2 linked regions of the Homo sapiens genome follow. The protein of the gene in region 1 purifies or fractionates together with the protein of each later gene. This does not show direct contact. Each region holds a gene or a part of one and is shown on either strand. Other genes may lie near its edges. The genes, in order: PRR19 and HIBCH.

Evidence for each region.
Region 2: the proteins of PRR19 (region 1) and HIBCH purify together in Homo sapiens (affinity purification with mass spectrometry; one large-scale study listed by BioGRID and IntAct). This does not show direct contact.

What each region holds. Positions count from the first base shown.
Region 1 is NC_000019.10:42,300,670-42,305,242, reverse strand, and holds the start of PRR19 (proline-rich protein 19), read right to left. Parts: upstream 3,112-4,573; 5' UTR 3,012-3,111; coding exon of another isoform or gene 2,934-3,011; 5' UTR 2,740-2,933; exon of another isoform or gene 2,619-2,739; intron 2,545-2,618; exon of another isoform or gene 2,443-2,544; intron 2,120-2,442; exon of another isoform or gene 1,865-2,119; intron 1-1,864. Other genes in the region: PAFAH1B3 (platelet-activating factor acetylhydrolase IB subunit alpha1), read left to right, coding at 2,934-3,011, 3,204-3,293. UniProt on the Homo sapiens protein: Promotes meiotic crossing over formation through its interaction with CNTD1 by participating in the crossover differentiation step of crossover-specific recombination intermediates.
Region 2 is NC_000002.12:190,208,034-190,211,844, forward strand, and holds part of HIBCH (3-hydroxyisobutyryl-CoA hydrolase, mitochondrial isoform 1 precursor), read right to left. Parts: intron 881-3,811; coding exon 847-880; intron 1-846. UniProt on the Homo sapiens protein: Hydrolyzes 3-hydroxyisobutyryl-CoA (HIBYL-CoA), a saline catabolite. Has high activity toward isobutyryl-CoA. Could be an isobutyryl-CoA dehydrogenase that functions in valine catabolism. Also hydrolyzes 3-hydroxypropanoyl-CoA.

The sequences.
Region 1 (4,573 bases):
TTTCTTTTCTTTTCTTTTCTTTCCTTTTCTTTTTGAGATGGAATTTAAATCTGTCACTGAGGCTGGAGTGCAGTGGCACAGTCTGAACTCACTGCAACCTCCACCTCCCGGGTTCAAGCGATTCTCCTGCCTCAGCCTCCCAGGTAGCTGGGACTACAGGCGCAGACCACCTTGCCCAGCTAATCTTTGTATTTTTTAATAGAGATGGGGTTTTGCTATGTTGGTCAGACTGGTCTTGAACTCCTGACGCCAAGTGATCTGCCCACCTCAGCCTCCCAAAGTGCTGGGATTATAGGAGTGAGCCACCGTGCCTAGCTGATTATGACTTCTTTTTTGGAGACAGGGACTCACTCTGTCACCCAACCTGGAGTGCAGTGACACCATCATGGGCCACTGCCACCTCATCTCCCAGGCTCAAGCTATCCTCCTGCCTCAGCCTCCCAACTAACTGGGACTACAGGCACTTGCCCTTTTTTTTTTTTTTTTTTTTTTTGAGACGGCGTCTCGCTCTGTCTCCCAGGCTGAAGTGCACTGGTGCCATCTCGGCTCACTGCAAGCTCTGCCTCCCAGGTTCACGCTATTCTCCTGCCTCAGCCTCCCAAGTAGCTGGGACAACAGGCGCCTGCCACCACGCCCCGCTAATTTTTTGTATTTTTAGTAGAGACGGGGTTTCACCGTGTTAGCCAGGATGGTCTCGATCCTGACCTCGTGATCTGCCCACCTCGGCCTCCCAAAGTGCTGGGATTACAGGCGTGAGCCACCGCGCCCAGCCTTTTTTTTTTTTTTTTTTTAGACAGGGTCTCACTGTGTTACCCAGGCTGGTCTCAAACTTCTGGGTTCAAGCGATCCTCGCACCTCAGCCTCCCCAGTAGCTGGGACTACAGGCATGCATCACTGCACCTGGCTCCCTCAGACTTTATTTGTTTGTTTATTTTTGTAATTAAGACAGAGTCTCGCTGTGTCACCCAAGCTGGGCCACTGTTGCCCAGGCTGGGCTGCAGTGGCGCGATCTCAGCTCACTGCAACCTCTGCCTCCCAGACTCAAGCAATTGTCCTGCCTCAGCCTTCCCAAGTAGCTGGGACTACGGGCGTGTGCTGCCATGCCTAGCTAATTTTTTTTTTTTTTTTGTATATTTAGTAGACACGTGGTTTCGCCATGTTGGCCAGGCTGGTTGACCTCAAGTGATCCGACCATGTCAGCCTCCCAAAGTGCTGGGATTACAGGCATGAGCCTCCATGCTGGCCTCCCTCAGACTTTAAAATCAAGCTATTCCACGATATTCCCCAAACCTAATAAGAAAGTGATTACCTGTGTCTTTTCTTTCTGCTTGCCCATTCTTCATTATCTTTCAGACCCAGCTGAGATACTACTCCTAGGAAACCCATAGTCCTCAGAGTCCTTCTCCTCTTCCTCCCCAGAGGTCCCTGTCTCTCCCTCAAACACAACTTTGACACCCCTACACCTCTGTGTCTGGATCTGTCTCCCTAAACACATTGGGACAAGGTCAGGAGCTGACCCACTCATTTACTACTCATTCAGCAAGCACTTGTGGAATAACCACTGTGTGCCCGGCCCAGTTCCAGGAAAGTGGATTGAAAACATAAACACAATGAATAACACTCATCTCTGTCTCAGTATCAATCCACCTCGAAGGAATGAATACATGGGAAGGTCCCACCTGGAGTGAGGCTACAAGAACATGACCAGGACGTTTAGCAGGGAGTGAGCCCCCCACCTGGTCCCAGAGAAGAGGGAGATCTGAGAAGACACTGAGGTCTGAGATTAATTTGGGGCAGCGTTGGGGGAGAGGCGCGACCCTAGGTGGCCTTGGCTATGGATGTAGGTTTCAGAGCTCAGACATACCCAGTTGGCCTGTGGGTTTAGAGAGAGTGTAGAGGCTGCAGATCTGCAAGATGATCTGCCGGAGGGACGCCAGACTGGACCTGAGCCCTGGAGGCGTCTCTAATTTCCTTTCTCTTTCTGCACCTTCTTCTACCCTCCAAGCAGGTCCTATGGTGTCTTGAATGCAAAGATATGTAGTTTATATGTTATGCCACGCGCGCGCACACACACACGGTGTTTTGAGTAGGGGTCCTGTGATGTCTTGAATGCAAAGATATGTACTTTAGATTTCAACACACACACACACACACACACACACACACACACACACACACCCACGGTGTTTTGAGTAGGGGAAGCCCACGAGTAGATAGGCTCACTAAAGCCCTGGCGCGGCCTTAGAGTGGCTCCTTAGAAGGGAGCCTCGAATTTTCACATTTTGTCATCTTCCTTTTCTGTCCCCCACATCAGTAGAAAATAGGAGCGTCCCCCCCAGCCAGGTGCATTCGAGCCACCCCTTCAAGGGAATATAAGAATGGACTCGTCCACTCGCTCCCCTCCCCCCACCACGTGAATGGGTCACCCCCCCCCCCGCAACAGTAGGTGGTCCCTTCCGCACATTTCACTCTGTACAGCAAATGGTTTCTTCCCATTTGCTAGACAGAGGGCTAGATTTTCCCCGCCCACTCTCGACTCTTCAGGTAGTTCGCCCCTCCCCGTGACCGGTGGGTGGTTTCTCCCTCCTCCCCGCCTCGGGAGCTGGATGGTCTCGCCTCTCCCTCCCCCCACCCCGTGCCGGGTGCGCGGCCTGGGAGTCAGCGGCCCGAGCGGGAAGCGCCGGGCGAGCCCACTGTGCGGCCGTCGTGGGGGAAGCGAAGGTTCCTGATTCCACCTACCTCCTAAGTGAAGGCTTCCGTCCCTGGAGAGGAGGCGGCGCCCTGTATCGGCCTTCGTCCTCCGCGGGTGTGCTAGCGTTGGGACGGTCCTTTGTTGCCGCGAGGGGTAGGAGTGGGCGTGGCGGAGCCAGCTCCGTTCGGAACACTCCCGGGCCGACCCGACTCGCTCATCCTGCAGGAGCTGCGGCGCCAAGATGAGTGGAGAGGAGAACCCAGCCAGCAAGCCCACGCCGGTGCAGGACGTACAGGGCGACGGGCGCTGGATGTCCCTGGTGAGCGTTCCCACCTGGGATATTGAGGAGTCCGGGGGCGCGGGGGGTGGCTCAGGAGAACGGCTGGTTCGTGCCACTCTCACTACCTGATTGGGAAACTGAGGGCAGTTGAGGAGGCGCTGCCTAAGGGAGCAGGGCGGGGCGGGCCCTGGAGCGTGCATGCCATTGACTCCCTCTCGCGCGCTCCCGCAGCACCATCGGTTCGTGGCTGACAGCAAAGATAAGGAACCCGAAGTCGTCTTCATCGGGGACTCCTTGGTCCAGCTCATGCACCAGTGCGAGGTGAGGGCAGTCCCTCTCCCCCTGCCCCATCCAGCCCTGTGTCCATGCTGACACATCTGGACCAGAACCCAGGCCAGGTGAGGTATTATGAGAGTACCCAGATTGGCCTCAGGCAGCCCGAGGCTCTGAGAATCTTGGTGTAAGGTGCAACATTCTATTGAGAAAGAAATGTATGCCTTGGTTTTATCAGATTGGATTTGTGTATAATGTACTAAGACCTAAAATGAGGCTTTCCTGCCATAGGCTTGCCTAAAGTGAGGCTCTTTCTTGTTTGCTTTAAGTAGTGCGCAGCCCTGTTGGGTTTACACAAAGCTATAGTCACTTTACAGGAAGCGAAGGGCAACTCTAATGGCACTCCACAAAGAGGACTCAATCATAATAATATCTTTCCACAAAGCATGTCCAACTGTAATGGGTTTCATCAAAATAAGTTTCAACTGTAATGCCATTGATTCAATGCATGGCTCAAGCAGACTGGATTTTCATGAAGTGAGTCTTGCTTCTATGGGGCTTGGTTTGTTTTGTTGGTTGGTTGGTTGGTTGGTTGGTTTTTGAGACAGGGTCTTGCTCTGTCACCCAGGCTGGCGTGCAGTGGTATGATCTCTGTTCACTGCAACCTCTGCCTCCTGGGCTCAAGTGATCCTCCCACCTTAGTCTCCGAGTAGCTGGGACTACAGGTGCACATCACCATGCACCTGGCTAATTTTTGTAATTTTTGTAGAGATGGGGTTTTGCCCTGTTGCGCAGGTTGGTCTTGAACTCCTGGGCTCAAGCAGTCCGCCCACCTCAGCATGAGCAACAGAGCCTGGGGCTTGGTTTAAAGTGAGAGACTCTAGGCAGGGTGTGGTGGCTTACGCCTGTAATCCCAGCACTTTGGGAGGCCAAGGCAGGCGGATGACCTGAGGCCAGGAGTTCGAGACCACCCTGGCCAACATGGCGAAATCCTGTCTCTACTAAAAATACAAAAATTAGCTGGGCATGGTGGCACATGCCTATAGTCCCAGCTACTTGGCAGGCTGAGGCAGGAGAATCGCCAGAACCTGGGAAGCAGAGATTGCAATGAGCCGAGATCGCACTACTGCACTCCAGCCTGGGCAACAAGAGCAAAACTCCGTCTCAAAAAATAAATAGGCTGGGCACCATGGGCTCACGCCTGTAATCCCACCACTTTGGGAGGCCGAGGCAGGTGGATCACCTGAGGTCAGGAGTTCGAGACCAGTCTGGCCCACATGGTGAAACCCCATCTCTACTAAAAATACAAAAAATTAGCTGGACGTGGT
Region 2 (3,811 bases), on another chromosome or scaffold:
TAAGAATTATGCATAAAAAGGAATTGTTGCAAGTATGCTAGAAAAAACAGTCAAGCACGTCAAGCACTTCACTTGCTTTTTCTAAATATGCTGACATTGGAGATTATAAGCAAAATGGAAAGTATTAATAAGACAATCTGCAGATGTTACTAATGACATCATATGGTCTTTTTCCCCAGCAATGTTTAACTGCTGAGGTACAGGCAAGAAGGTGGAAAGTAGGGTTAGACCACTGGTCAATTTTGCCAGGCCAGCACGAAAGAGGGAGAAAGGGTAGGGGATTTGAGGGCTTTTTGTAAGGTAATAAATGCATGTTTCAAAGGCCACAGCAGCAGGATGGCAGCAGGATGAGTTTACAAGCTCAATGCTGCACTTATCAGATGCAGTCCATGATTGTAGGGGCAGGATTACCTTATATATAAATTAGGAAACAGTGGCCAAGTTATGTGAATTTTTAAAACAATTATCAGTTTCAAAGACTGATCTTCCTTTTCATATCCCAGATGGTAACATATTCTTTAAAAACATACACAACTTTGCAATCTTAATAAAAGTTTAATTTTCACTACTAAAACAACTATAGGTTGAGTATTCTTTATCTGGAATGCTTGGGATCAGAAGTGTTTCAGGTTTGATTTTTTTTTTTTTTTTCAGATTTTGGAATATTTGCATTATACTTATGGTCCAATGAACATTTGAGTGTCATGTTGGTGCTCAAATAGTTTCAGATTTTGGTACATTTTGGATTTTAGGATTTGGGATGCATAATCTGTATCTTCTTTAATTAACAGCATATGCTCACAAATCCCATTTCCCCAAAATGGTAAGTTCCCATTTGCCACTTACCAGCTCTAACGCCTTCATGAAAGTCATGACCTCTCTGAAAGAAAATTGAGATTAAATGGGGATAATTTCTGGGTGTCCTTATTCTGGGTTATTTTCTCTCTCCTCTATTCACTTCAGCCTTCCACTCCCATGGCCACAACCTGAACCATGACATTCAGAGACTGAACCACCTCTGATAGCCCACTCTCTGATCACCACCTCCTAAATCTTATTTGCTCAAGTATCTCCACTGCTACAAATCATTGATCTTACTGAGGTCCACAGATCCTATGACTTTCTCCCCATCTGTGCTGGCTTCACTTTGCTCTTCATCCAGCCCAATTTCACCAGTCCTTTAATATGGTCACTTTCCTGTCAAAATGTCATCATCTCCCTCAAACCTTTTTTCCTTTTTTACAATCCTAGCAAAATCCTGGCACCAACTAAACCCTATCACGTACCCCTGCCTGCACTTCAGCAGCTAAGTCTTGCTGCAGAAAATCATACAACTGTGACTGGTTTCATTTAAAATTCATGATCAAAAATCTCAAACAGGCACAGAAAACTGCCAAACAATCCAAGATCTCTTCCCAACTCCCCAAGATAATGATTTTAAGTGTTTTCTGCCTTCTCAACCTCTACCCGTAGAGCACACTCTTATTATAGTCTCAGCCAGTTACTTAACCTCTGACTTCTTTAAAAATACGAGAAGCTCTTAGATATGAAGTCTTGTCTTCTCACCACTAAAACACCTGCAGGCAACTGTGGCCATCTGCACCTGCCTTCTCTTTCAATGCCGTGGAGGAAAGGACCATCCCTTTTTCAAAGACCAGTCCTCCCTTGCATTCCAATTCACATCCCCTCTTGCCTTCTCAAGGATGGACTTTGCTTGATGTGGTCATTCACTTTTATTTTCCTAGAATCATCGATGTAGGCAATATAGCTGAGTTCAAATGTCTAGGTTCACATCCTGATAGCTACATATTAACTATGTGACCTCGGACTAGTAATTTCTCCAACCCTAGTTTCTTTACATGAAAAGGTAATTTATATATCCATCCTAGGATTATTTTAATCCACATCCAAGCACAGTGTCCGACACTAAGTGTTCAGTAAATATTAACTACCATTAGTATCATCAACATAATCTTGTTTCTCTATTGGATCATTCCCAATCATTTTTAAACATGTTCTAGTACCTTCCATCTTACAAAATAAAAAAGGAACTTCATTTGATTCCACAGTCCCAGCTTCTATCCTATTTCACTTTCAAGAGTATTCATCTACACATATTCTCTCCACTTCTTCACATCCCATTTTTCCTCTCCAACTTACTACACTCTAACTTCTGCCCCCACTCCTCTAAAATGGCTTGCCAAAACCACCCATGACATCGGCATCGCCAAGGTCAAATGACACTTCTAACCTCGTCTACACTTTGACAGCGTTCAACACTGTCCATTACACCCTCCTCCCCGAAACATTCCTCACTTTCTTTTGTGACACTACACTCTCCTGGTCCTCCTACCTCTCCATCCTTTTTTTCCTTCCTACTGCTCTTTCTCTACCACACCTCAAAATGTTAGAGTTCCTTAGGGCTCAGGTCTGGACTCTCATTTTCTTTATAATATGATCTTACCTATTCAGTGCTCAACATAGCAGCCTGAGTGATCAATTCTTTAAAGTATAAGATCATGGCATTCCTCTCCTCATAATCACCTAGTGGCTTCCCATTTTACTCAGCCAAAGTCCTTAGAGAGACCTTCAAGGCTCTGTATGCTCTGCACAGCCTTTCTCTACACTGTTTCCTCTGACCTCATCTCTCACTCACCACAACCTCTGCCCCCCATCCGCTTCCACACGGCCTCTTTGTGGTCCCTAGCACAGGCAGTCATGCTCCAGCCTCACAGCTTTGTTCTTGCAGTTCCCACTGCCTGGGATGCTCTTCCTCTAGATAATGGCATGGGCTCACTTCCTTACTTCTTTCAGGAATTCACTCAAAGAACATCTCAGTGAGGCCTTCTCTGGTCATCCCATCTACAATTCATCCCCCTGTTACTCTATATCACATATCCTGCTTCCTTTTTCTTGTTAATATTTATAATCATATAATATATATTTTATGTATTAATCTTGTTTACAGTCTATTTCCCCATTATAAAGTAAGTTCCATGAGGGCAGGTGTTATCCTACTCCCTACTCCCCAAGATAATGATTTAAACTGTTTTCTGCCTTTTCAACCTCAACCCCTGGAGCACACCTATGTACCTGGAACCTATGTACCTGGGTACCTCTAACAGTGTCTACGACATAGTAAGCACTCTTGTTTAGTAAATAACGAATCCCCAAGGTTTTCTTAATTGCTGTTGGTGTCTTTCAGATTTAAATCTCCAACTCATTCCTCTAATCTCTAACTCCTAAATGCATTCCTTCCCTCACATCCAGCAAGTCCTATCTATTCTATCTCCTACATGTGTCTCAAATCCATTTACTTCTCTCAATTGCCACCATGCTTGTCTCAAAACTACTATTTCACACCTGGATCACTGCAGGAAATCTATATCTGGTCTCTAAACCGTTCTTGAACCTCTCCAACCCTATCTCCACACAGCAGCAACAATTTCCTTCTTAAAGCAAATTGAACCGAATGAAATGAAAAATCAAATCACCTCCTGCTTAAGCCCAAGAGTCTTCTCAACATACTCCTTTCTCATCCTTTAGGTCACAAATGAAGTGACATCACAAAGATGTCTTCCCTGATCTACTTAAGGAGGTTTCCCATTGCCCCCCAACTCCCTCCTGTCCCTGCATAATCTCTTCTATCACCAACCCTGTATGTTTTCCTTTAGAGTACTTATCACAATTTATAATTATTTTACTTATTTTGTTTACTTGTTCTTTGTAGTCTCAGTAGACTAAACCCATGAAAATAAAGGACTGTGTCTTCTTATTCAACAATATAAGGCTAACACTGAGCACAGTGCCT